4 separate regions of the Homo sapiens genome follow, and all the other regions are reported to be linked to region 4. Evidence: microRNA targets listed by miRTarBase, many of them from high-throughput screens and not tested one by one. Region 4 holds a microRNA gene; each other region holds the end of a gene's coding sequence.

Evidence for each region. The annotated mature microRNA hsa-miR-603 reads CACACACUGCAAUUACUUUUGC and lies in region 4 at 2,766-2,787, opposite strand. An mRNA with a match to its seed (bases 2 to 7 or 8) in the 3' UTR can be bound and repressed. Matches are read on the target gene's strand: a 7mer-m8 pairs with bases 2 to 8, a 7mer-A1 pairs with bases 2 to 7 and ends in A, and an 8mer does both.
Region 1: the mRNA of MTPN is a reported target of hsa-miR-603. Seed matches in the 3' UTR shown: 7mer-A1 at 2,493-2,499 and 7mer-m8 at 3,557-3,563.
Region 2: the mRNA of HLF is a reported target of hsa-miR-603. Seed matches in the 3' UTR shown: 7mer-m8 at 1,473-1,479, 7mer-m8 at 4,689-4,695 and 7mer-A1 at 4,724-4,730.
Region 3: the mRNA of ELK1 is a reported target of hsa-miR-603. The part of its 3' UTR that is shown has no 7-base or 8-base seed match.

What each region holds. Positions count from the first base shown.
Region 1 is chr7:135,923,628-135,930,791 of GRCh38, reverse strand. MTPN (myotrophin) reads left to right here. Exons shown (of 4, transcript NM_145808.4): 4 at 780-4,032. The coding sequence ends at 866. Among named protein-coding and RNA genes, the nearest start is that of MTPN, 50 kb to the left of the region's middle.
Region 2 is chr17:55,320,102-55,327,265 of GRCh38, forward strand. HLF (HLF transcription factor, PAR bZIP family member) reads left to right here. Exons shown (of 4, transcript NM_002126.5): 4 at 563-5,086. The coding sequence ends at 778. Among named protein-coding and RNA genes, the nearest start is that of HLF, 59 kb to the left of the region's middle. RefSeq lists an enhancer at 577-1,077.
Region 3 is chrX:47,630,232-47,637,231 of GRCh38, forward strand. ELK1 (ETS transcription factor ELK1) reads right to left here. Exons shown (of 7, transcript NM_001114123.3): 6 at 6,782-6,883; 7 at 5,290-6,696. The coding sequence ends at 6,598. It also overlaps a transcript of CFP not described here. Among named protein-coding and RNA genes, the nearest start is that of CFP, 3.8 kb to the left of the region's middle.
Region 4 is chr10:24,271,368-24,278,531 of GRCh38, reverse strand. MIR603 (microRNA 603) reads right to left here and starts at 2,847; the gene lies at 2,751-2,847. All of the region lies in intron 2 of KIAA1217, which reads right to left.

The DNA.
Region 1 (7,164 bases), not on the chromosome of region 4:
GTTTGGGAGCAGATTAACCTACCATGCACCTAGGCACTTTTCCAAGTGCTGGAGTACAGTGGTGAATTACTGCTCCCATGGAGCTTTCATCCAGAAAGGGTAGACAGATGAAACAACATACAGGCACAAAAGGGCACATACACACTCTCAAAACCAGAATGCCGCGTTGCAGATAAAATGTTCCAAGGCAGCACTCTCCAAGTTAAGCGTTCAGAGCAGTCTGGTGTCTGCACTGAATATTTCCCTACAATATCGCAGGGAACCTTCTTATAGTCCGCATCTCAGGCATTTACTGCGAAGTTTTTACAAGTAAAATGACGAATACAGTATTTGTTCTTGATGTATATAATACTGAATGCACTCTACAAAAAGTGTTTCAAATAAGAAAAAAATAATTTGTCACAGGAATACTTTAGCAAAGTGATTTACTTTTTCCCCGTTTCATACTGCACATAGGGATATTATTTTTAAAGCCTAATTAGATAAATATATCTAACTTGCTCAACGTGCTCTTCCTAATCATCTCATCCATGATAGTATAAATAAAAGCCAGTGATTGCCTGGGTTACAATTCTTAGTGCCTGAAAAATAATGTGGCATTTTTATAATTAATCCATAATGTTGCCAACTTGTTTGTTTTTCTGCAGTAGAATAGACTCCACTAGTAAAGGAATTTTTAATTCTTGATGTAAACATTAACCTGTGCCATGTGAGCTAGTCTTACATTCCCTTCCCCCAGTTGTGGGCTCATTTAATGAGCCCTTTCCTCTCTTTTCCAGGGTGCTGATAAGACTGTGAAAGGCCCAGATGGACTGACCGCCTTTGAAGCCACTGACAACCAGGCAATCAAAGCTCTTCTCCAGTGATGGATGGATGGACTGATAACTCCGGAAGAATGACTCTCCTGTGGCCTCACACTGCTGCCTGTCTGTCTGTCACTCTCTATCTGCCAGCTTCTTCAGCTAAATACTTTAAGAGGGGTGAGGGGAGAGAGAAATTCATAACAAATCCGACTACCAGAAAAAAAAAATTGTTTTGGAGGAGGGGCAAAAGGAACCATGATCAGGCTTTTACTGGGATTCCTGATCAAGTAAGCCTCTTCCCTTTCTAATAAAATATACACCTTATACCCAAGGGAGAGCAAAGACAAAATACACCAGTAACATTTGACCTTTTCAGCTCCCTAGCTAATTTATTAGATTGTGTTGAAGGTCTGATTCTACAAAGGCCAACTCTACATATTTGGTAGCCCTAACTGTCTGAGCAGTAGTGGCTGCTGTGATGTAAACTTAGGGTGCTGAGATAAGCAATTAGCTCTAGCCTTCTGCCTTAAGAATGCACTCTACTGGGGATTTCCTGGCATAGTTAAGAGCGCTGCCTATAAGGTTGGTGACCAAATCTTTCCTCGGTGACTTTAAGCTTTATGTGAAAGCTTAGTTAAGGTGAGGAGGGGCACACTCCTAAATTGCTGGATGACTGAACTTTGGATTTTCTCTCCCCTTTCACATGGATTTCATGTCTCTTTAGATAAAACTGACTAGTTTTATTTATAAAATCTTAAGTTTTGGAAGTCTAAAGGAGAAACCATTCCAGTATGCATATTTTTTTCTCCTCTAGATTCATACATTTATATAGCATTGAAACACTTTCAAACTCCTGCTGGTAGTAAAAGGGGATTTAAAAATAGAATCATAGCCATAAGCCTGTTAGTATCATATGAAGAGAGAACAGTTATCTTAGTACCTATGGATTTTCTTTATTTGCTGTTTGAATGGATTGACCTTGGTTATGTGTTGAGAATTAAGGAACATTCTTTGAAATGCCTCTCTCAGACCCATCTTGGAGGCTGATTACTTACTGCACCAAAGCTATCACTGGGGTGAGATTTACTGTTTGGACAAATTTAGCCCCATCCCTTCAAAAATACACTTGTAACCAGGTTTCCCAGAGTTGTTGATAGGCTTCTGCTGAACATATGCCAACCCACCTGCATAATATATTTTTGTTGCTTTTATAAATCATGCATTACATAAAGTGTGACAACTTCAAAATGTATTCTCTGTTCTTGGAATACAGTGCCCTAAAATGGTGTTCTTATGACCTGCAGAAAATATTTACACATATTTCCAAATATTTATTTCATGAGCAGTACAGCTAATTAAAATATATAAGCTTAAATTTTATATCTTACATTTAAAATATTAAGATTCCTTTGACTTGCCATCCATATAAGCTTGCTAAAAATATTAAGACCAAGTCATGCAATAATTGAATGTACCTCAAATTTTTAGGGGAGGGTGGGTTAGGGACTGATACTCAGATTGTGGATAATAATTGAATTGGTTTTTAAAGGCAACATAGCATTCTACAGCAGGGTTAATCTATTATCAAGAACAGTCACCCTGGTTAATAACAAGTTTTACTGATCAGTTGCTGGTTGGTTGGTTGGTTGGCATGTGGGTGTGTGGGTGTATAGGTGTGTGTGGGTGTGTGTGTGTATTTTTCCCCATGAGTCCTTTTTTTAATCCTGTGGCTTTTTCACTTACAACTAGCCTAACCCTGTAATTTTCCTACATCCAAGAAAACAATCACAAAGTAGTGGTTTAAATACTTTGTTGTATTTGGCTAATTTTGCTGTCTTAATGCAGCCTATTAAGAGTTGGGTTAAAAATCAGTAATCAGTACTTTATTACATCACTGAACTAAAATATGGAGACATCCTCATTGAAAATGGAGGGCACTCTATCAGTCTATAACTATCAACGTAGTGCAACAGGGTGTTTTGATACCTTTGTTTTCACCTCTTGACATAATGCTATTTAAAGGCTTGAATTTTTCCCTTTATATAATTTTCACCTTTACTTTCAAAGTGTTTTGTTGTAGTTGGCTATTGCAGAGAGTGCATTGTCCTATCATTCCTAAACCTGGTCTGCTTTCTACATTCATGGTATGGAAACCATGTGATTCTTTGTACAGTTTATCCTGATGTTGCTTGTAATGCAGTAGAGGCTATTTCGCCTTCGCTTTTCTTTCTCGACCTTTTTGTAAACCCTATAATTATGAAGCGATTGCTTGAGAAAATAACATATAAACATAGAATAGAATAGACTGACCAAGATGGTTCACAGTTTCTTTTTTTAACTAGGTTATTTATAATGTATTTCTGAACCACTTGGCAGACAAATTCACAACACTTAATGTTCATATTTTGAGTAAAGGAAGCTAAAACCATGTTTGCTTTCTGGTACTACATGCATTAGCGAAAGGTTAAGTAAGTTTTGTTCTCCACTGAAGTAATACTTAACATCTCAGAAAAAATTTTGCATGTTCTGTAGTTTTGTATTAAATCAGTCATTTCATATGCACTATATCAAGTACAAACAGGTAGTTTACCTGTTTATAGTAGTGTACTAACAAAGTCTCCCTTGCAGCTTCAGACTGTTATCTATAGGCTTATCGTTCAAATACAGCACTTGAATATCCCAAGTAGTTCTTCTACGCATAGCTCACCTTTCTAAACCCAGTTAAGCATGGAAGAGAGGTAGTAGGTAGGTGCAGTGTGTGGAAGCTGCAAACAAGTAGGCCTTTTATTCATTGATATCTTTTCCCAAGTACTGGATTTTAAATCTGTATGTATCTGTTTGATTTTTTTTTCTAATATTTCAGTTGAGCTGCTGTTTTCTTCCATGCAATATTGTATACTCAATTGTGTATAGAAGAAGCTGGTGAGAGTGCCCTCCTACATAAATAAGCAATTGCAGTGTTTTGCATGCAAAATATAAAAAATTTAAATTGTCCTGATTCTATTTTGTAAATGGAGAAACAATCATATCTTTCTAAGCGGTAATGGAGGAAGACTAGTGCTTTGTGCATTTTGATATATTTGAGTTCATTTTTTCCACAATGTCATACTTTTGACGCAGTTGGGTTTCTCATAAGTATCCTAGTTCATGTACATCCGAATGCTAAATAATACTGTGTTTTAAGTTTTGTGTTGCAAGAACAAATGGAATAAACTTGAATTGTGCTACAGCTAATGTGTCAGCAGCATTTTTCTCAGTTATTATCACCTTCCTTTTGTAGTCATCTCTACAACTATACCAGAAGCTTGATTGACTCAAACATTTAGTTAATCTTATCCCACTTCTAGAAAAAAATGAGTGGAGGGAAAATAAAACATAAAGATTTAATTGAAATAAACCTTACCAGTCTTTGAAAGGATTTGCTTTTGTGTCAGTCTCCTGACATTGTTTTACTGTAACTTCAGTAACGCTCCTGGTTGACGGGGAGCAGGGTGTAGCCAGCACATCCCAGATCGTCAGGATCTTCAGGGGGCTTGAAGAAAATGGAGTCGTGGTTAAACCTCTGATCCTTTCATTGCTCATCTAAGTTGCTCCACATTTCTTGGAGATCTGCATTTCCCAAACTCAACTACGAGCACTTTTTTAGAGTGTAATTTTCAGGATGAGTGATCACTTTGAACCTTAAAACTGAACAAAATTAAATACAAAATCAGTTTGATTGTGTTGTAATCTTGTTAGCACCAGAAGACTATTGCAGTTTACTTTTAGTGATAGAAAAAAAATATATATGTGCAGATACTAAGTTACAGCAAAAGCTGTATTTTAGAACTTTCACATTGTTGACTGAAGTATAAATGGGGACCATGTACGGCTTTAGGTGGAAGTGATTACAGAAATTTTTTTAAGTTCTCATTTTAAGAATTGGAATCTAGGACCGGCGCAGTGGCTCACGCCTGTAATCCCAGCACTTTGGGAGGCTGAGGCAAGGAAGATCACTTGAGCCCAGGAGTTCGAGACCAACCTGGGCAACAGAGGGAGACTGAGTCTCTACAAAAAATTAAAAAACAATTAGCTGGGTATGGTGGCAAGTGCCTGTAGACCCAGCTACTTGGGAGGCTGAGGTGGGAGGATTGCTTGAGACTGAGAGGTTTGAGGCTACAGTGAGTGAGCTGTGTTTGTGCCACTGCACTCCAGTCTAGGCGACAAAGCGAGACCCACTCTGAAAAAAAGAATTGGGGTCTGTAAAGAAAGTTTAAATCTGGTTAAATACATTTTAAAGGGAATAGAGTCCCCTTATATAATGATTGAAGAACAGACCAGCATATGTGGATGGAAGGCACACACCTGGTGGAAAGAAGGAGCTTAGAGGGAAATTAGTTTGCCATTAGAGAATAGCTGTCATAGGACTTTTCATGCAGCACAGTATACCAGACCACCATAAGATTTTTTTTTTTCTCTTTCTGTAGCATCAGTGATTCTCAAAATGTGGTCTCTACACCAACAGCATTGCCATAACCTGGAAGCTTGATAAAAATGCAAGCTTTTGGACGCTAGCCAAGACCTACTGAATCAAACTCGGGCTGGACCCAACAGTCTATGTTGTAACAAGCCCTCTAGGTGATTCTGATGCGTGCTGAAGTTTGAGGACCATTGAATAAGACCATAAGAGCAAGAAACAGTCAAATAGCCTATAAATAGATGCCATCAGGCATGACTTCCTAAAGAGAAAGTAAATGGAAGCCTTTAACATGTGAAATGTAGCAAAACTGGCCAAGTTTTGAAGCTCCAGATGTCCAGGAAAATCTTTAAAAATGAGTTTCAAAGGTATATTCTGGCCAAAAGAAGTCAGGGTGAAATGTAACAATGGTTCCAAAGGTGTAATACTGGTGAAAATGACCCTTAGTTATTCTTAGGAGGTTTTTCCGCCTTATGTCCCCAAAGCTGGATTCCTGAGACTCAAGCCTTACCCTTACCTTACCTTTCCTTGAATTCCAAAGTAAAGTGGAAGGTGGAAGCCAGGCACAGTGGCTCACGCCTGTAATCCCAGCACTATGGGAGGCCAAGGTGGGCAGATCACTTCAGGTCAGGAGTTTGAGACCAGCCTGGCCAACATGGGAAAACCCCATCTCTACCAATAATACAAAAATTAGTTGGGTGTGATGGCGCACGCAGCTCCTTGGGAGGGTGAGGCACAAGAATCGCTTGAACCCAGGAGGCAGAGGTTGCAGTGAGCCGAGATCGCACCACTGCACTCCAGCCTGGGCAACAGAATGAAACTGTCTCAGAAAAAAAAAAAAGTGGAGGGCTGGGAGAGACATGTAAAGAATTCTTGGGACCTATGACATGAACTGCAGTCTCATGCTTTTTATATGCAGGTCATTGTGGGGTGCAGGACTGGCAGGCAGAGCCACTCTGGGAGGAAGTCAAAGGCTGCTTTCTCAGCCCAATGCCCCGTTTGCTGTCACAGTGTGCTGTGAAGATGGATTCCCCACTGCAGTGGGTGTGCTGCTGGCTTGGAAACAGCAGCCTTGGGGTGGCCAGGTTCCCTGGAGTGGAGTGTCCCAATTTCTCTGCACAGTGGAGTGGCTTTTGCCCTCCGTTTTTCTTTATGGGTGGCCACTCATCCTATCCAACTAACTAGGTCCTGTGTCAGGTCAACGATCTTACCCAGATACCAGCCAGATCATCACACATCAGCCATGGGATATTTTTCTCCAAGGCTTTTACTTCCTTAAAATATGATTGCTGATTGAGAAGAGAGAATTTAACAACAGCTTTAATAGCACCTGGCCCTCAATAGACATTTCACTGTGTTTGTTCTGAATGATGACGTAAAACCATTATACAGTAAAATGTGAAAACAGCTTTGATTCAGTAAATCCTGCCCTAGAAAAGACTATTAGAAGAGCCATGAGGCTACCTGTGTCCATGTACCCAAATATTGACCATGGAGCCTCATAAGTACTACTGATATTGATTGCAAACTGAAATCAATGATGTGAAGACAAATATCACAGAGTCACAACAATTCACTGAGGAAATGCTGAGCGTGGGTCAAATGCAGGTCACTGTGAGACATCATGACACATACTCAGGCACAGCTATACATGACAAAGCAAAACAAAGCATTGTCTGGCCACTCCAGCAACTTCTATGATTCAGCAGCTGAAGCAGCAAGGATGGTCTTATTTCCACTGTTTTGATAGAACAGTGGATCACGTGTCTGGCAACACTCGTAGCAACAGCATCTTGTCACACAAAGGAAAATAATACATAGACAATTCCTAGCCACCAGATGTTGGTTTTGAGAATACTACTAGATAGACTTTTTTTAAATAAGCTATATTTTTCTTCTTTTTTT
Region 2 (7,164 bases), not on the chromosome of region 4:
TTCTACTGCACATAATGCTGCAGTGAACAGTTTATGCTTGTGTGTACATGCACATGTATGGAGATTGCTACAGGACAAAATCCTGGAAGTGGAGTGCTAGATGAATAGTATATCCATTTAAATAGTTGATAGATATTGCCAAATTGCCTTCTAAAATTTTTGTACCAACTCATACCCAAAAAAGCATATGAGTGCCCTTGAAGGAAAAGGGTTCTTAAAATGTTGAGCAGGGAGAGTAAAGAAAGTTGAAATGTAATTTAAGGGTGAGGTGAGCCACCTGCTTTCATCCAGCCTCTGATCTCTGCTTCACTGAGCACGCCTCTGCTGGGCAAAGAGTAGGAGCCTGTTGGGACAGATCGGTGGGTCCTTGCTCCAAGAAGGAAGTGTGGCTCATGGGCCACACTCTCAGACATGCAGAAACTGTAAAGGAAGGAGACACAAGCTAAGAAACCCGGGCTGGCACCTCTGCACAATCCTGGAGCCTGCCCGTGCCCTGGCTGGCACTGGGCTTTGCTGAAATCTAATATCTTGTTTCTTTTTCCCTTCTGTAACTAATGAGCAGGATGACAAGTACTGGGCAAGGCGCAGAAAGAACAACATGGCAGCCAAGCGCTCCCGCGACGCCCGGAGGCTGAAAGAGAACCAGATCGCCATCCGGGCCTCGTTCCTGGAGAAGGAGAACTCGGCCCTCCGCCAGGAGGTGGCTGACTTGAGGAAGGAGCTGGGCAAATGCAAGAACATACTTGCCAAGTATGAGGCCAGGCACGGGCCCCTGTAGGATGGCATTTTTGCAGGCTGGCTTTGGAATAGATGGACAGTTTGTTTCCTGTCTGATAGCACCACACGCAAACCAACCTTTCTGACATCAGCACTTTACCAGAGGCATAAACACAACTGACTCCCATTTTGGTGTGCATCTGTGTGTGTGTGCGTGTATATGTGCTTGTGCTCATGTGTGTGGTCAGCGGTATGTGCGTGTGCGTGTTCCTTTGCTCTTGCCATTTTAAGGTAGCCCTCTCATCGTCTTTTAGTTCCAACAAAGAAAGGTGCCATGTCTTTACTAGACTGAGGAGCCCTCTCGCGGGTCTCCCATCCCCTCCCTCCTTCACTCCTGCCTCCTCAGCTTTGCTTCATGTTCGAGCTTACCTACTCTTCCAGGACTCTCTGCTTGGATTCACTAAAAAGGGCCCTGGTAAAATAGTGGATCTCAGTTTTTAAGAGTACAAGCTCTTGTTTCTGTTTAGTCCGTAAGTTACCATGCTAATGAGGTGCACACAATAACTTAGCACTACTCCGCAGCTCTAGTCCTTTATAAGTTGCTTTCCTCTTACTTTCAGTTTTGGTGATAATCGTCTTCAAATTAAAGTGCTGTTTAGATTTATTAGATCCCATATTTACTTACTGCTATCTACTAAGTTTCCTTTTAATTCTACCAACCCCAGATAAGTAAGAGTACTATTAATAGAACACAGAGTGTGTTTTTGCACTGTCTGTACCTAAAGCAATAATCCTATTGTACGCTAGAGCATGCTGCCTGAGTATTACTAGTGGACGTAGGATATTTTCCCTACCTAAGAATTTCACTGTCTTTTAAAAAACAAAAAGTAAAGTAATGCATTTGAGCATGGCCAGACTATTCCCTAGGACAAGGAAGCAGAGGGAAATGGGAGGTCTAAGGATGAGGGGTTAATTTATCAGTACATGAGCCAAAAACTGCGTCTTGGATTAGCCTTTGACATTGATGTGTTCGGTTTTGTTGTTCCCCTTCCCTCACACCCTGCCTCGCCCCCACTTTTCTAGTTAACTTTTTCCATATCCCTCTTGACATTCAAAACAGTTACTTAAGATTCAGTTTTCCCACTTTTTGGTAATATATATATTTTTGTGAATTATACTTTGTTGTTTTTAAAAAGAAAATCAGTTGATTAAGTTAATAAGTTGATGTTTTCTAAGGCCCTTTTTCCTAGTGGTGTCATTTTTGAATGCCTCATAAATTAATGATTCTGAAGCTTATGTTTCTTATTCTCTGTTTGCTTTTGAACGTATGTGCTCTTATAAAGTGGACTTCTGAAAAATGAATGTAAAAGACACTGGTGTATCTCAGAAGGGGATGGTGTTGTCACAAACTGTGGTTAATCCAATCAATTTAAATGTTTACTATAGACCAAAAGGAGAGATTATTAAATCGTTTAATGTTTATACAGAGTAATTATAGGAAGTTCTTTTTTGTACAGTATTTTTCAGATATAAATACTGACAATGTATTTTGGAAGACATATATTATATATAGAAAAGAGGAGAGGAAAACTATTCCATGTTTTAAAATTATATAGCAAAGATATATATTCACCAATGTTGTACAGAGAAGAAGTGCTTGGGGGTTTTTGAAGTCTTTAATATTTTAAGCCCTATCACTGACACATCAGCATGTTTTCTGCTTTAAATTAAAATTTTATGACAGTATCGAGGCTTGTGATGACGAATCCTGCTCTAAAATACACAAGGAGCTTTCTTGTTTCTTATTAGGCCTCAGAAAGAAGTCAGTTAACGTCACCCAAAAGCACAAAATGGATTTTAGTCAAATATTTATTGGATGATACAGTGTTTTTTAGGAAAAGCATCTGCCACAAAAATGTTCACTTCGAAATTCTGAGTTCCTGGAATGGCACGTTGCTGCCAGTGCCCCAGACAGTTCTTTTCTACCCTGCGGGCCCGCACGTTTTATGAGGTTGATATCGGTGCTATGTGTTTGGTTTATAATTTGATAGATGTTTGACTTTAAAGATGATTGTTCTTTTGTTTCATTAAGTTGTAAAATGTCAAGAAATTCTGCTGTTACGACAAAGAAACATTTTACGCTAGATTAAAATATCCTTTCATCAATGGGATTTTCTAGTTTCCTGCCTTCAGAGTATCTAATCCTTTAATGATCTGGTGGTCTCCTCGTCAATCCATCAGCAATGCTTCTCTCATAGTGTCATAGACTTGGGAAACCCAACCAGTAGGATATTTCTACAAGGTGTTCATTTTGTCACAAGCTGTAGATAACAGCAAGAGATGGGGGTGTATTGGAATTGCAATACATTGTTCAGGTGAATAATAAAATCAAAAACTTTTGCAATCTTAAGCAGAGATAAATAAAAGATAGCAATATGAGACACAGGTGGACGTAGAGTTGGCCTTTTTACAGGCAAAGAGGCGAATTGTAGAATTGTTAGATGGCAATAGTCATTAAAAACATAGAAAAATGATGTCTTTAAGTGGAGAATTGTGGAAGGATTGTAACATGGACCATCCAAATTTATGGCCGTATCAAATGGTAGCTGAAAAAACTATATTTGAGCACTGGTCTCTCTTGGAATTAGATGTTTATATCAAATGAGCATCTCAAATGTTTTCTGCAGAAAAAAATAAAAAGATTCTAATAAAATGTATTCTCTTGTGTGCCAGGAGAGGTTTCAGAAACCTACCTCGTCTTACAAATTTAAACACTTTGGAGTCTGTACAGGTGCCTTATATGTAGGTCATTGTCACGATACACACACACGAACACTCCCTCTGGACTGGCTGCCTCTCCATCCAGGGCAGTTAACTAGCAAACAAGGCAGATCTGCTTCATGGAGCGGGAGGCCATGGCTTGACTCTGAGTGATTTGGGTCAACCGGAGTCAGACGCATGTCTGCACGCTGCAGCTATTATGAGAGTCCCTTTGTCATTTTTCACCTTTTCATCCTAAGCATCTTTCAGAGATTAATTATTTGGCCATTAACAATGAATCCAAATCATATCATACTGACATCATCTAGACATGATTTGGAAGGAACAGCTTAGGACCTCCTGATGAGGTCACATTGTTGTTTCTTTTAACTAGACTTGGCAAAGAAAGGCAAAAATTGACCAGCCTATCTTTCTGCTGGTGCTGCCTTAAGGAGGTAGTTTGTTGAGGGGAGGGCTGTAGATCATTACTTCTTTCTCTTCAGGAAGTGGCCACTTTGAACCATTCAAATACCACATTAGGCAAGACTGTGATAGGCCTTTTGTCTTCAAATACAACAGGCCTCCACTGACCCATCCCTCAAAGCAGAAGGACCCTTTGAGGAGAGTACAGATGGGATTCCACAGTGGGGTGGGTGGAATGGAAACCTGTACTAGACCACCCAGAGGTTCCTTCTAACCCACTGGTTTGGTGGGGAACTCACAGTAATTCCAAATGTACAATCAGATGTCTAGGGTCTGTTTTCGGAAGAAGCAAGAATTATCAGTGGCACCCTCCCCACTGCCCCCAGTGTAAAACAATAGACATTCTGTGAAATGCAAAGCTATTCTTTGGTTTTTCTAGTAGTTTATCTCATTTTACCCTATTCTTCCTTTAAGGAAAACTCAATCTTTATCACAGTCAATTAGAGCGATCCCAAGGCATGGGACCAGGCCTGCTTGCCTATGTGTGATGGCAATTGGAGATCTGGATTTAGCACTGGGGTCTCAGCACCCTGCAGGTGTCTGAGACTAAGTGATCTGCCCTCCAGGTGGCGATCACCTTCTGCTCCTAGGTACCCCCACTGGCAAGGCCAAGGTCTCCTCCACGTTTTTTCTGCAATTAATAATGTCATTTAAAAAATGAGCAAAGCCTTATCCGAATCGGATATAGCAACTAAAGTCAATACATTTTGCAGGAGGCTAAGTGTAAGAGTGTGTGTGTGTGTGTGTGCGTGCATGTGTGTGTGTGTGTATGTGTGTGAATAAGTCGACATAAAGTCTTTAATTTTGAGCACCTTACCAAACATAACAATAATCCATTATCCTTTTGGCAACACCACAAAGATCGCATCTGTTAAACAGGTACAAGTTGACATGAGGTTAGTTTAATTGTACACCATGATATTGGTGGTATTTATGCTGTTAAGTCCAAACCTTTATCTGTCTGTTATTCTTAATGTTGAATAAACTTTGAATTTTTTCCTTTCTTTCATGTATTTTTATTAACAGTTGGCTAGCAATGGTATTCTGTTCCCACCTCGGTAGCAAAGAGACCATTTGTAGAGATTATTACCTAGATAATAAAATGATAATACTATATAATTAGTAATAAATTAACATTTATTGGGTAGTTATGTGCCAGACACTGTGCTAAACACTTAGATGGAATATTTTATTCCATATTAGCTCTATGAGGTAGGGACAATTATTATCCCCATTTACAGAAGACAAAATGGAAAGTTAGGAGAGTCACGTAGCTTACCTAATGTTACAGAGGTAAAAGTGGCTGAGATGAATTCTGATCCCTGGAGTGGGCATTATTTAGAGGGGTGGTTCCCAAAAGCCAGTCCACAGACTGTCTTGTTCTCTAATATATAAAGAATAATTCAGCAACATCTAGGAGTATAAATCCAGAGATTCTGAATCAGTAGTTCTTGGATGGGGCCCAGAAATCTGAATTTTTAAACTGATCCCAGCCAACTTCCATCTGCAGCCAAGTAATTGGTGTCAAGGATTTATAGACTTGGCTCTTAATTCAAGTTCATGACCCTTGGGGGATCCACGCAGAGGCTTCAGAGATGCCATAATTATCTGAAATTGTATGCAACTTTTTATGTATAAACATTTATTTTGCTGTAGAGAAGACTTGTAGCTTTTTTTTTTTTTTTTTTTTTTTTTACTTCCCTAAAGGAACCTGTGATGCAAGGCGGAATAAAACCCCTGATTCATGTAAGAAGGCTGATGTAGAGCAGTGGTTCTCAGCCCAGGGAGCCCAGTAGATTCACCTGGGGAGCTCAAAACCGGCTGTGTGGGGCTGCAGCCCAGGCCAAGAAACTCAGCATCTCCGGCATAGTGAGAAGGGGGCTCTGTGTTGAGGAGTACAATTCTGGATTCAAATCTGTCACCTAGTGGGTATGTGACCTTGAGCAGCTTCTAAACCGTTTTGAACATAATCTCATCTGTGACATGAAGGTATACTCACTTCTGAGGGTTGTGGGGGGAACTAATGACAACAAATGAATTGTCTCTGGCACATCCGAGGCCTTCAACAGATAACTACATGGGGCCCACGAGAGTAGAATGGATGCCTTGAGCATTTTTCCAATTCAATATTTCAGACTATTCGTTCCTTCAGAGAGGACGGAAAAGAATTCCCCTGCTCATATGCCAGAGCAGGATGGCTGATGGTATGGGAATGGGTGGTAGAGACGTTGTTTCATAGTGTGACTTCACCAACAGTTCATAGACTAGCGCCAGCTTTGTGCACAAGGTCGATGGGCATCTCTTACTTGGTGACAACCTCTAGTTAAAATTGAGTGGTTACAAGTTAGGGTTCAGCTCTATTTTCATCCATCAAACACCTTTCACCTTTTTGTTGTTGTTGTTGTTGAGGTGGAGTCTCACTCTGTTACCAGGCTGGAGCGCAGTGGTGCGATCTCAGCTCACTGCAACCTCAGCCTCCTGGGTTCAAGCGACTCCTGCCTCAGCCTCCCAAGTAGCTGGGACTACAGGCACGTGCCACCATGCCCAGCTAAGTTTTGTATTTTTAGTAGAGGCAGGGTTTCACCGTGTTGGCCAGGATGGTCTCGATCTCTTGACCTCGTGATCCACCCACCTCGACCTCCTAAAGTGCTGGGATTACAGGCGTGAGCCACTGCACCCAACCCACCTTTCACCTTTCTCAGAGGAATAAGAATAGTGACCTTAGCTTAAGAATAGTGACCTTAGCCTAAGATTCTTCTGGGGCATCTTCAAATCTCTTGGAGGAAATGACTTCATGCCTGGAGAGCATTTGGATCCGAGATGGCAAGAACTGATATGAAGCCAAGCTGCGTAGACTCCCAGTCATACACAAGTCCTCAGTCCCTGGGGGCCCATCACATGCTGCATGTAGGATGGCTCTTCCATGCACACTTAAGCATAAGATGCCACCCAATCAAGCCCCTCTCTTCAAAGCATACAACTTCAATTTCCTTGTTGAAAATCATTGGCTTAGAAGTCTCTTTGGACATCTTTAGCTAGGAACTGGGTGAGAACTTTGAAATCTTGTCTTTGTGGTCAGAAGATGGCTTCTTGCTAATAAATCAAAAGGACCCTTTGGAGGAGATAGGACTAGTCAAAGGTGGCAAGCATCCTCTGCCTCTCTGGGTTTTGAGTCAGGGAGGACTTGGATCCAAAGTCCCTGTC
Region 3 (7,000 bases), not on the chromosome of region 4:
CATAATCTCTAACATAATGACGGGGTCAACCTCGTGGGGGTGTTGAACCAGGGTGAAGTGAGTGTGCGGTGCTCAGTATGTTCCTGCTCGTGGGGGTGGAGGGAGCATCGAGTCAGTTGCTCCACCTTCCACCCTCCCTTAACCTCGGCCCTCCTTTCCTGAGAGGTTCCCTGTGGTCAGCTTGTGGTCGGGGAGGTCAGCACAAGGGAAGTGAGAAAGGGAAGTGGCAGGAGCCTGGGGAGGGATTCAGGAGGGGAATGGGGTCTATCCATTGTTCCATGGGCCCAGCTGGGGACAACACCAGGGTCTGGGGTGATTAGGAGGGAATAAGCTGGGCCATATTCCATCAGAGAACCCTCAGGCAGATAACACCCCCCTTCTGGAGCCTGTTTCCCCTCTGTAAAATGTGCTCACAGACAGCACCTACAACATAGGTAGGGTGTGTTGCAAAGATTGCGAGTTAAGCTTTTGTTTGTTTTGTCGAGATGGAGTCTCACTCCGTCGCCCAGGCTGGCGTGCAGTGTCACGATCTCGGCTCACTGCAACCTCTGCCTCCCGATTTCAACCAATTCTCCTGCCTCAGCCTCCTGAGTAGCTGGGATTACAGCCGTGTACCACCATGTCCAGCTAATTTTTGTATTTTTAGTGGAGACAGGGTTTCACCATGTTGGCCAGGCTGGTCTCGAACTCCTGACCTCAGGTTATCCACCTGCCTTGGCCTCCCAAAGTGCTAGGATTACAGGCGTGAGTCACCGTGCCCGGCCAGGAGTTAAGCTTTTGGAAAGTCTTTAGAACAGTGCCTGGCATATAGTAGGTGCTCTGTGTTTGATAAATTTATTCAACATTTATTGAGCACCTACTGGATGCCAGATGCGGTTCTTAGCATTAGAGCAGAGAATAGGACAGACAAAAATCCTGGCCCTCGAGAAGATGGATAACAAATGTTGCCCCTCCTCACAGAGGCCTTCCCCATACCCTTGTCTGGCATCCCTGTCACTCTCTAGCCCAGTAGCTTCCAAACCTGTTTTTTTGTTTGTTTTGTTTTAAAGAGACAGAGTCTTGCTGTCACCTGGGCTGGAGTGCAGTGGTCTGATCATAGCTCATTGCAGCCTCAAACTCCTGGGCTCAAGTGATTTTCCCACCTTAGCGTCCCCAAGTAGCTGGGACTACAGGCACACACCACCACACAACTAATGTTTTTATTTTCTGTATAGATGGGGTCTCGTTGTGTTGCCCAGGCTGGTCTCAAACTCCTGGCTTCAATATTTTCTCCCAACCTCAGCCTCCCAAAGTGCTGGGATTACAGGCATGAGCCATCACACCAGCCCTTCTTTTTTTTTTATTTTTTTATTTTTTTTTTATAAACCCTAATGAAACTCCAGGGCCCACTTTAAAATTTTTATTTTGCTTTTAATTAACAAAAAGAAGCACAAGAAAGATAGGAAGGCAATGCCTAATTTCCTCTGCTCTCAGGGAGGCAGAGGAATTCTGCAAATTCAAATGTAATAATTTGGTCAGCTGTTAAAACAGAAGTTCTTCAGGAACACTTGTTTTATGGGCAGTAAAGTATGTGTTAATATCTGTATCCATTACAGACATACTCTGTTCTCTGATAACATAAGGCTATCCTTGAAAATGTGCTTTGAACAAAGGAGTCTTATTAAGATTCTACGACTTCAAGACAATCATTGCTGTGTTATCCTGTGAAAACACTCTCCAAGAGACCTGAAACTGGCCAGGCATGGTGGCTCACGCCTGTAATCCCAACACTTTGGGAGATTGAGGCAGGTGGATCACCTGACGTCAGGAGTTCGAGACCAGCCTGGTCAACATGGTGAAACGCCGTCTCTACTAAAAATACAAAAATTAGCCAGGCGTGGTGGCGGATGCCTGTAATCCCAGCTACTTGGGAGGCTGAGGCAGGAGAATCGCTTGAACTCGGGAGGCAGAGGCTCTAGTGAGCTGAGATCGTGCCACTGCACTCCAGCCTGGGCGACAGAGTGAGACTCTGTCCCAAAAAAAAAAAAAAAAAAAAAGAAAGAAACCTGAAATTCTGGCTGGCTTCTTTATTTAACCACCTGTTGCCCTGGTAATAATATTAACAATATTTCCTTTGTTTCTAAACTGTATAAATACTCATAGGATTCCCTGTGGAAGAGGACTGTCAGCACTCTATCTTTTCCCACACGTTTAGGCAATAAAATGACTGCAGATTCCTTAAACAAAGAGTGAGAGTCTTGTCTTATTTAATTATTACATCCCTACCTGCTACTATGTATTTGCCTGCTTCTTGTTATTCTCACTCCCTAAATATCAGTTCCACAAGGGCAGGGATTTTTGTCTGGCTTGTTAACTGCTGGGTCTGCAGGGCATTAGATAGGCACCAGGAAACAGTGGATGCTCAATAAACATCTGCTAAATGAATCAATCAATGAAATAAACAAAACTTTAGAGATTACGATAAAATGCCAGAAGGACAGTCTGAGTTAGAGGTAAAAATGTGGGCATCCCATGGAGGATAAGTAGTATTTCAAGTGTGAAGACCTGGATAAGATGACCTAGAGAGGATGCGTGAGAAGAGAGAAGGGAATCCCAGGGCTTTGCCCTGGGGAACCCCAGCATTTCAAGTTTTAGAGAAGTAGGAGAAGCCAGCCCAGCGGACTGAGCAGGAGGGGCCTGTGGAGGAACAGGAAAAACAGAAGAGGGTTTTTCTCCAGGGCCTGGAACATTCGAGGGTCTGCAGGGCATTAGACCTCTCACACAGTCTCATTTGGTCTGTTATTTTCTCTCTCTCTCTTTTTTTTTTTAAACCTATCTACACAGTTATGTTTTTCTTTTCTTTCTTTTCTTTTCGAGACAGGGTCTGGTTCTGTTACCCAGGCTGGAGTGCAGTGGCGTGATCGCAGACTACAGCCTCAACCTCCTGGGCTCAAACCATCCTCCCACCTCAGCCTCCCGAGTAACTGGGACTACAGGCACACGCCACACCTGGCTAATTTTTTAAACTATTTGGAGAGACAGGGTTTTGCCACATTGCCCAGGCTGGTCTCAAACTCAAACTCCTGGGCTGAAGCGATCCTCCCAACTCAGTGTCCTCAGTAGCTGGGACTACAGGCATGCACCACTATACCTGGGTAATTTTGTTTTTTGTTTTGGTAGCGGCAGGGTCCTTCTATGTTGCCCAGGTTGGTCTCAAACTCAAAATCCTGGCCTCAAGTAGTCCTCCCACATCAGCCTCCCATGTAGCTGGGATTACAGGTGCACAACACTACGTTATGCTAATTTTTTAAATTTTTAGTAGTGACGGGGTCTCACCATGTGGCCCAGGCTGGTCTCAAGCTCCTGGCCTCAAGTGATCCTCCCACCTTGGCCTCCCAAAGTGCTGGGATTACAAGCATGAGCCACCGCACCCAGTCCGGATTTACAGCCTCTACTATATTCTCTTAATCACACAGCCTCTCAGACATTCTGTCACTCATAGTCATTTTCTGTGTCATGGATTCCAGCCTTACTACAGTCTCCTAACAGTTTCACACACACAATCATGTTTAACAGCCTGTCTCATTCAGTCAATATTGCCAATAGTTTCTCTCACCAGTCAGTTCCTTACATACACGTGCAGTCACACAATCTCATGAAACGTTTAGGCACTCATTTGGCCTGTTACTTTCTCACATACACAAATAGTCACTGATTTATAGTCACCACTAACTAGTCTCTCATGAAGTTTCCCACACATGCACAAAAATCACCTCTCCTACCCCTTTCTCACTCAAGCCACTTTTTCACACACCCACGATCCCTGATTACAGCCTCTCCCACAAAGACATTCACACGCATACACAATCACACAGTATCTCAGACACTGTCGTCACCTAGTCTCACGTTTCTTCTCAATCAGCTTCCAGTACCCTCAGTCCTTGATTTACAGCCTTTCATAAAGTCTCTTGCAAAGGGTTTACCCATGGACACACAATCCGTTTCTCAGCCACTGTCTCAGTCATCACTGTCCCTCAGTCAGCTTCTGATATACTCGGTCAGTATTTCACAATCACCACTAGGCCCTCGATAAGTCACCCACAGTCACCCATGCCCTCTCAGTCGTGCACACCGTCATTTTCTTCATATGGTCAGCTCATCACGGACACACGTGCACAGCTTTACAAGTTTCTCACACACTGTCACGTGGTCACTTGGCATGTCTCATTTGCTCAGCTCTTTTGTATGGCCCCTGATTTATGGTTTCTTATGAACTGTTTCACAGACCCCCTGGTGCTCTGACATCACTCAGTTGTCAAGTTCCTCTCCCACAGTTTCTGACTTCCAGTTACTGCTACTGCCAAGTCTCTCATAAACAGTTCCTTGTCCCTCTCCCTTGCATGCCCAGTGATGTGGTCTCTCACACCATGTCAGTGGCTCCGTCCGGCTCACCGTCATTTTCTCTCCTACTTTCTCACAGTCCCTGAACCTGTGGGATAGACTGTGGTAGTAATGGTAAATCGATTTGCAACTAGTTTCAGGTGTACACACACACACACACAGCCTGTCACACTCTCCCAGTCACAGCCATTCGTTTTTCTCAGTCTTTGCTGCAGTCTCTCACGCCTGCTTTCGTACACACAATTGCACCTTCTTGTATCTTTGGTCTCGGTCACTGGTTTGGTCTCCCAGCCATTCTCTCCCGTACAATCAAGTTCGCACCCATACAGTCTTACAGCTTTAGCTGACACTACAGCCTCAAGTAAACAGTTTTGCACATCATCTATTTCTCAAACGTTGAGTCGCCTACAGTGAGGTTTGTCACCTACACAATCTTTGCCACAATCCCTGACAACCTCTACTGTAGTTTCATGCCCACGTAGTCTCTCACATGTGGTTTTGGTCACCCAGTCTGTCTTGCTCGCCATCAAACAGTGACAGGGCTGCAGTCCCCGTTCCCTTCTCGTAGACATTATTTTGTGCATACCATCACAGGTTCTTGTACAGTACCTTGACTATTCATCCAGGCTCAGTTATTTTCTGAAACACAGCCACAATTTCCCACATAGACACACCATCAAAAGTCTGTGGTCACAACTTCTGCACACTCTCACACACAATCACAGCTTTCCACGTCTCTGACACACACATGGTTACCGATATGCAGTCCCTACTATTGTTTCTCACACACGCCATCACACCGTTTCTCTCACAATCGACCTCTGCCTCACACCCTCCACACACAGTCATGCGTGTCACGCTCAGCTAGTCCTGACAACATCAGAGAAAAAGTGCCAGCAGCCTCCAGCATCACTTTGAAAAATATATATTTACAGGAACAATTCCCCATTCTCTGGGACTCTTTAGAAAAAAAAAAGGTCCATTTTGGGGAAGTAAAACAAACAGTGGAGACGAGTGTAGCACTGTCCCCCAAATCACCAACCCCCAGGTCCCAAGGCCTGGGCTGGGCCAGCGCTAACAGGTGAGCCCAGGAGTCTTTTGAACCCACTCTCTCTTGCCTAGAATAGAGACAGGACAGGCTTTATGTCCCCCATTCCTCCCTCCCAACTCCAGGGACATTGAAAGGGTCCTTTGTACCCGCCCGCAGGAAATTGGGGGGCTGGGAGGGAGGGAACTGAAAATTCATGTTTGGTATCAAAAATAAACACTTGGAGTGGGGGAGGCGGCAGGAAGATTCCCCCCCAAATCCCTTCCTTCCCACCCACCCCACCAAATATAGGAAGAGATGACTCCCTCTCCCCTATTGAAAAGCCCCATTTAAAAATAGATTATACTATCAAAATGGCAGCGGGGGAGAGACAGGGAGACCTGGAGTACTGGCTGGAGGGGCCCCCCAGACGGGGACCACCCCCCAAAAAAACCCTCCATTGGGAGGAAACAGGCAGGACCCCAGGGAGGTTGGCAGACAAAGGAATGGCTTCTCAGGGGGAAGAACAAAAGGGACATTCCTCCCTGGCCAAAAAGTTGGTTGAAAAGGATAAGCTGTCTGAGAGAAAGGTTGGGGAGGTGGAAATTTCTATTCCAAGGGTGTGATTCTTCCTTGGCCAAGACTCCCAACCCATTAAATGGTACAAATTCTTCCTGGACCCCTGAGTATGGCCAGGAATAATAAAACAAAACAAACTAACTCTTCTACTCACATCCAAAAACGCAGACAGGGCTCCCTCATCTCCCCAAGGGCAGGCTGAGAAATAAAGAAAGAAAGGTCGTTCTCAAGCCAGACCTCGATTGTCTTGTCTTGGGGAAAAAAGTGGGGAGGTGGGGGAGATGTCCTAACCACCCTAAAAGGTTAGGTCAGGCTCCTCCCAGTGGCCTTCAAAAAATAAATAAATAAACCGCCCCTACCATTGAAGTAGGAGACGTGTAAGGGCGGCCACTGGGGGACTGACAGAAAACAGAGAAGTTGTGGAAGCTGTGTGTTTTCTGTGGAGGAGATAATGAGAGTTACTCTTGGGAGTAATTCTTCCCAAGGATCCCCACCCCACCACAATCAGAGCATGAGTCTTTCAGTTGAACTATGTTTCTCCTTGAGATGGCTGGCTGGAGAGAGCATGGATGGAGTGACCCCAGAAGGGGTGGTGGTGGTGGTGGTAGTAGTCATGGCTTCTGGGGCCCTGGGGAGAGCACCACGGGGGTCGAGAGGCCATCCACGCTGATAGAAGGGATGTGCACCTGGGCGCTGCCACTGGATGGAAACTGGGGGCAAAAAGAGGGAGAGGTCACAGATGGGGGCCATTCTTGGGTCTCTCACCCTGTCCAAAACGGGGAAAGAGGATCCTACCTGGAAGGAGAGCTTGGCCGGGCTACGGGGCGCAATGGGACTCAGGGTGCTCCAGAAGTGAATGCTAGGAGGCAGCGAGCTGGGTGTCAGCAGCACCGGGGTCTGTGGGGAGAGGGTGGTCGGAGCTCAAGTGAGTAGAAAGTAGATGTGGGATGCTGGAAGGGACTTGGTCCCGGCCCCACCACAGATTTCCCACTCACACTCCCAGGGTCACTCCCC
Region 4 (7,164 bases):
CCCACATTGTGTCTGCCACTTGCCACATGCTTTCGATAGATTATCCCTTATCCACACAACTCTGCAAGCTCTGTATTATTTTTGGACACTTCACAGATGAAGGTCAGTGGGATTAAACAGCTTTCTCTAAGCCACACAGCTCATGAGTAAATTCAAAACCGGGTCTGTGTAATTTCAAAATTCCTGCTTATCTCACTCCAAACACTGCCTCTCCCTGGTCTGCACACAATGGTCTGAGTTCTAGGTTTCCGGCCTCACAGAGTAACTCTCATCCATCTTCTACCTGACAGTCTTTCAGAAATGAAGACTTTCCAGAAGCCAGTGGTCAGTCTGACCCTTTACACCGCCACTGTGGCTGTAATGTGCTTCTCCACAGTGTTTTGGCCTGCTCCAAAGTGGCTCATGCAGACCCTGCCTCTCCTCGCTACTTTCACACACAGCCTAAGAGGTGGCGTCATCACACTCCACAGCATCTCACCCATGACGGCGTCCTCGAGCTGCACAGACTGTGCGTCCGTCCTCAAAGGACAAAAGGCATAGGTCCATAGAGCTGCTGTCCAAAAGCATCACAAAGGGAAGCCAGCAAGCACTGCTTTCTATCACAGGGGAGAAGTTCCCAGCTGATTGCTGGCAGTGCTGCCACTGTCTTTTGCCCGTCAGAGGGTGAGTCAGAGAGAGGACTCAGGAAAACCTACTGTATTAGGCCATTCTCATGCTGCGATTAGGACAAACCTGAGATTGGGTAATTTATAAAGGAAAGAGGTTTAATTGACTCACAGTTCTGCAGGGCTGGGGAGGCCTCAGGAAACTTACAATCATGGTTGAAGGGGAAGCAAACACGTCCTTCTTCACATGGCAGCAGCAAGGAGAAGAATGAGTGCCCAGTGAAAGGGAAAGCCCCTTATAAAACCATCAGCTTTCATGAGAACTCACTCACTATTATGAAAATAGCATGGGGAAAACCGCCCCCATGATTCAATTACCTCCCACCAGGTTCCTCCCACAACATGTGGGGATTATGGGAACTACAATTCAAGATGAGAAGTGGGTGGGTACACAGCCAAACTATATCATCTGCATAGCAGGTGGCCTTGTCTCCCCATTCCTGGGCTCCCCCAGGGCAACCTGTCCCCCATCCCACTCACGAGGCTTCCCTCTAGGAAGCCGCTAAGAAGAGACCTGCCACCCACCTGCTTGCTCCACTTTGAGTGGGAACCACACCAGGGTCAACCTCAGAAACATCTGAAAAGTTGGAAGTAAATTCAGCAGTCTAGCAAAAGCAGTCTTCTGCAACTGAGGAATCCAGGTTGAGCGCTGCCATGACCTGTATTTGAAAAGCTGCCACCTTCCAATCAGGCCAGAGTTAAAGAGCAATTTGAAAAGAGCAAGAATTTCCAAGCTATAAAACTAGGGACATGATTCTAAGAGGATAAAACATTTTAAGATTGGTTTAAAAGCTTTTGAAAAATTTAAGGCCAGGCATGGCAGCTCACATCTATAATCATAGAGCTTTGGGAGGCCGAGGTGGGAGGATTGCTTGAGGTCAGGAATTTGACACCAGCTTGGGCAACACGGGGAGACCCCATCTCTACGATTTTTATTTTTTTTTTAATTAGCTGGACTTGGCTGGGTGTGGTGGCTCATGCCTGTAATCCCAGCACTTTGAGAGGCTGAGGCGGACGGATCACAAGGTCAGGAGTTCCAGACCAGCCTGGCCAATATGGTGAAACCCTGTCTCTACTAAAAATACAAAAATTAGCTGGGCGTAGTAGCACATGCTTGTAGTCCCAGCTACTCAGGAGGCTGAGGCAGGACAATCACTTGAACTTGAGAGACAGAGGTTGCTGTGAGCCGAGATCGCGCCACTGCACTACGGCCTCGGTGACAAAGTGAGATTCCATCTCAGAAAAAAAAAAAAAAAAAGCTGGACTTGATGGCATGTGCCAGTAGTTCCAGCTACTAGGGAGGCTGAGGTGGGAGCATCACTTGAGTCCAGGACTTCAAGGTTACAGGGGCTATGATTGTGCCACTGCACTCCAGCCTGGGTGACAAAGCGAGACCCTGTCTCTTAAAAATTTTTTGTTTTTAAATTCAAACCCAGTTTTCCTCAGGACTCTTATTAACAGCTATCTAAGGAATAGGAAGGGATGCCCTCAAACCGGGCAGAACGAGATGGAATTCTAAGTCATTTTGTCTTTTGCATTTCTGAAAAGACTTTCATTTTTCAAAGGACATCAAAACTGAAATGCCTTATAAATCCCTTTGTGTTTCTGCGTTCTGTTCAATGGCATCAATAAGATGGATGATCAGCAAATGGCATCAAACTCCATTTGTATTCTTATTAGAATAATAACACGTAAAATGATATGAAATGAAACAGCAGATTCCAATGACCTTGTAGCCCAATTCAATTACTATTTCACTAAATAACGACAAAACTGACAGTCCTCAAGCTGCTGAATTTATGAATTAAATTCAACTTCTCTTCTACATTCTGAGCAGGACTGAGTGGAAAAAGAAATGGTCAGTGAGGACTGGGGAGGAGTTTCCTTCTCTTTGCTATTTAATGCAACATCGCCAAGCCCACTGGAGGGAGGGGTATGGAAAGACAGTTTAAAAAGGAATATCAGGACCAGAAGGGAGAACTGATGGCCAGGGCCCTTGCTATAGTTTGCTCCTGCAGATGAGACACTGCTTTGGAAAATTTTATCATTAACCAAACTGCACTGATGCTAAAAGTCAATAAAGCCAAGTATTAAGTTGGAGCAAAAGTAATTGCAGTGTGTGCCATTACTTTTAAATGGGAAGCACTGCAATTACTTTTGCACCAAACCAACAGCATCAATCTTGCCTGCATCTTAAGCAAAGGCTTAATGAGAAAAAAAACATACTTGAGACTACTAAAGCATTATACAGTCAGTCCTCATTACTAGCAGATTCTGTATTTGTAAATATGCCCATCACCTAAAATCTGTTTGTGACCCTCAAATTAATACTCCCAAATGTTTGCAGTCATCATAGACATGGCAGGACAGTGGACAACTGGAGTTTCCCAACAAGCACGTTCCCAGGTGGCGTCTAACTAAACAACACTCTGCTTTTTTGTTTCAGTTTTCATACTGTAAGGAAGCACCCTTTCCACAGTCTTTTTAGTGCCACAAGTTTCGCATTTTTGTGTCTTTTTGTGTCTGTGTGTGCACCTGCATGCGTGTATGTGTGTGTGAGTGACTTCACTATTTAAAATGGTCCAAGCCAGGTGCAGTGGCTCATGCCTGAAATCCCAGCACTTTGGGAGGCTAAGGCAAGAGAATTGCTTTGTGACAGGAGTTCAAGACCAGCCTGGAATATACTAGTCATGTTCATTGGGGAATTAAGACCTCAAAAACATAGCCAGACCCTGCCTCTACAAAAAAATAAAATTAAAAAATTAGCTGGGCATGGTGGCGTGTGCCTGTAGTCCCAGATATTTGGGAGGCTGAGGTGGGAAGATCACTTGAGCCCAGGAGTTTGAGGCTCCAGTGAGTTGTGATTGTGTCACTGCACTCCAGCCTGGTCAAGAGGGCGAGACCCGGCATCTACAAATTTTTTCTTTAAATAAGAAAAGAGAATAAATTTTAAAAATAAGAAATAAAATGAAATGGCCCTTAAGTATGGTGTGGAAGTACTATTTGGCATTCCTAGGCTCAAGAAGGCTGTGATACACCTTACACAAAAAATAAGTGCATTAGATAAGCTTAGTTCAATGCTAATGAATCAATAATATATATTTTAAAAGGTGTCTTCAAACAAAAACACAGGTAAAATAAGGATTTTTGTTGATTGGTTGATAAAAAGGTAACCAAAGACTCACAGGAACCTAACCCTGTATTTCCCCTAGGAAATTCAGTATTAACTAATAAATTCAGGACTCACTAATGCAGTATTTAGGGCAAGTTTATAGAACATCAATACTGTGAATAACAAGAATTGACTGTATTTTCAAACTGCAGTAAAAATGCCATAAGTATGTAAAATAGGACTTGTAGGAAGACAACAAAGTATATTTAGATGTAGCAGGTTCATCTTTTTTACTTTTTTTGCAGATGTGAGAACTTGACAATTTCTAACCACTGGACTTAGAATGGAGAACACAGCCAATCTGGGTGACAGAGCAATATTCCGTCTCAAAAAAAAAAAAAAATTAGCTGGACTTGGTGGCATGCACCAGTAGTTCTAGTTACTTGGGAGGCTGAGGTGGCTGGTCATGAACTCCTGACCTCAAGTCTCCCAAAATGCTGGGATTATAGGTGTGAGCCATTGTGCCTGGCCAGCAATGGCAATATTTTCTTACTACCAACTCTCAGAAAACATACATTATTCTCCATAATTATCCAATAAATTTGGACCCATCTGAAAATAAGCATCAGTCACTTTTCAGTTTATACATGTATGCTATTAGTCATTACTCTGGTAATATGTGAAATGTAAATCATTGCCTTATTACTTACTGGATATGGGCTGTTTTTTGGTTGAGGTATGCGTCTAATTTATTGGTACTACATTAGAAAATGCCCTACACCAAATATCTGCTCTGATTGGACTAAGATCCTACATTTTTATATTTGGGAATATTGCTCAACTTGAGAAAGGCAAGATGTCCCAATCCCTGCAACAGTAACTTGGACTTTTTTTTTTTTTTTGAGACAGAGTCTTGTTCTGTCGCCCAGGCTAGAACACAGTGGCACGATCTCGGCTCACTGCAACCTCCATCTCGTGTGCTCAGGCGATTCTCCAGCCTCAAGCCTCCCGAGTAGCTGTGATTACAGGCATGTGCCACCACACCCGGCTGATATTTGCATTTTTAGTAGAGACAGGGTTTCACTATGTTGGCCAGGCTGGTCTCGAACTCCTGACCTCAGGTGATCCACCCACCTTGGCCTCCCAAAGTGCTTGGATTACAGGCATGAGCCATGGCGTCCAGCCAATAACTTGGACTTCTAATTAAAGATGTGACGTGGGCCAGTTATGCATAGAGGTAAGCCAAGGGCCTCTTATGTGACACCCTCACTGGACTGGGACAGATTCTGCCATGTCATTTACCTTGAGTACTCCAAAAGGAAGAACATAAAAATAATAATGTAATGAAAGTAGCAAGGGTATGTTTAACTTCAAAGAAGATCATTAATACTTAGCCTGGACTGTCTGAGAATATGACTAGAGAAAAGGGAATGAAGGAAAGAGGAGTACTTAATCTATGCTTATTGTTCAAATGCTCTTCTCTGCTCACACTTTGCAAATGTTAATAAGAGTCTGATCTCTTGATAGTAACCATAGGGAAATTTATCAGCCTCTAAACATAATTTCTCCCTTTTCTCTATCCTGAGTCTCCAATGAGTTGGGCAAAATGCAGAGGCATCTCATTCATTCAGAAAATGCCATCTTTTCTCTCTCTCATATATGTAGTGTTGCTAAAATTAACTAAAAAATTAACTAGTTTTAATTTTCTTCTTCTTAAAGGCTTCTGTCCATAACTGTCCAAGGCGCAGAAGGGCACAGACTTTTACGCAATGAGAGTCCCCTGACATTCTGCTGTCTAAGACTTCATTCTCAGAGTGCAAGGACCAGAGAAAGAACTGGGGTGGATGCTATTCCACGTTTGCTCTTTTCATTAAGACTTTTCAAAGAAGACTTTATTCCAACATGCATTTAAAAGAAAAAGAAATGAAGAATTCTTCCTTCAGGCGAATAACTCATAAGGGGAAAAAAACCCTTGAATATGATTTATTTCACAGGGATCATTGAAGAGCACGTGAAAACCGATCTCTGTTGAAATTCCGAAATACTTGTTAATGCCACCTTGAAAGAAGTAAAGAATTTCGAAGTCAGTTATTAAATAAATCCATGACTATTTGAACAGCTATCTCAATTTGGCTGGAATGTGGCTAGAATTCGAGTTATGTACATTGAGTTTGAGTAGAATGTGGCTTTGACAATGAGTCAACCTTAGTATTTTCTTCCCAACAATGATGGAGCGGCTTGGTGAATGCAGAGCTCCCTAGAGTAGCTTTTAGAACTCGTACTCTCCTTTCAACAACAGATTGCTCAGTTGAGAAGTTTTAGAACTGAATGAAAACTCAGGCATCATTTAGTTATTTGTGCAACTTGAATATTTTTTCCAATAAGATAACCAAGGCCAAAAAAATTAAGTGGAAAAAATGTCACACATCGAGTTAGAAAGTAGAACTAATCTAGATTCAAGCACTCCTAGCTACTAGTCCAGAGTTCTTATTACTAACCTGGACCTGCAGTGAGCACCACTGACATCCCTAACTGAGTAGTGACTTCCCTAGTAATCTCCCTTATCTAATTTTACTGCATAAACACATTGCTATCTGTTACAGGAATGGGATCTTAATCATGTAGAGAGAAGGGAAAACAAGGCATGAGGAACCTTTGAACCTTATTGCTAGGCTTCAAGTAGAGAGATGTCAGGTTGTCTCCCGAGTCCACCCTTCCCACCCAATTTCCTACTCTCACGAGCATCCCATGGGCTTTGGTCTCTCTGTGCCTCTTGTAACCAACCTAAAATGGAGATGCATAAAAGTGGCCTTTTATGCCACTTTTAAGTGGGCTATCTTATCTTGTATAAGGCTAGGTCATACTTTTGAATAAAACAATTTTTATTTGAAGAGGCTGGGACCAAGAAATATATATAGCTAGAATGGGCTGCGTACAGGGGGAAAGTTTATTAAAAGGCCTGCGTGTGCACAGTTTCATTATTCTCACTCTTTTTTTTTTTTAAGACAGGGTCTCACTCTGTCACCCAGGCTGAAGTGCAGTGGCACAATCTCGACACACTGCAGCCTCAACCTCCCCAGGCTCAGGTGATCCTTCCACCTCAGCCTCTCCAGTACCTGGGACTACAAGTACATGCCACCACGCCTGGCTAATTATTATAATTTTTTGCAGAGATGGGGTTTTGCCACGTTGCCCACGCTGGTCTTGAACTCCTGGGTTCATGTGATCTACCCACCTCGGCCTCCCAAAGTGCTAGAATTACAGGTGTGAGCCACCGCACCATCCTATTCCTACTCTTCTTTCCTTTAGTAAAGAGTAAGTATAAACTAACAAATTGGTTATAGTCAGAACTGAAATTAGCACTTATGATGTGGAATCTCAATCAAG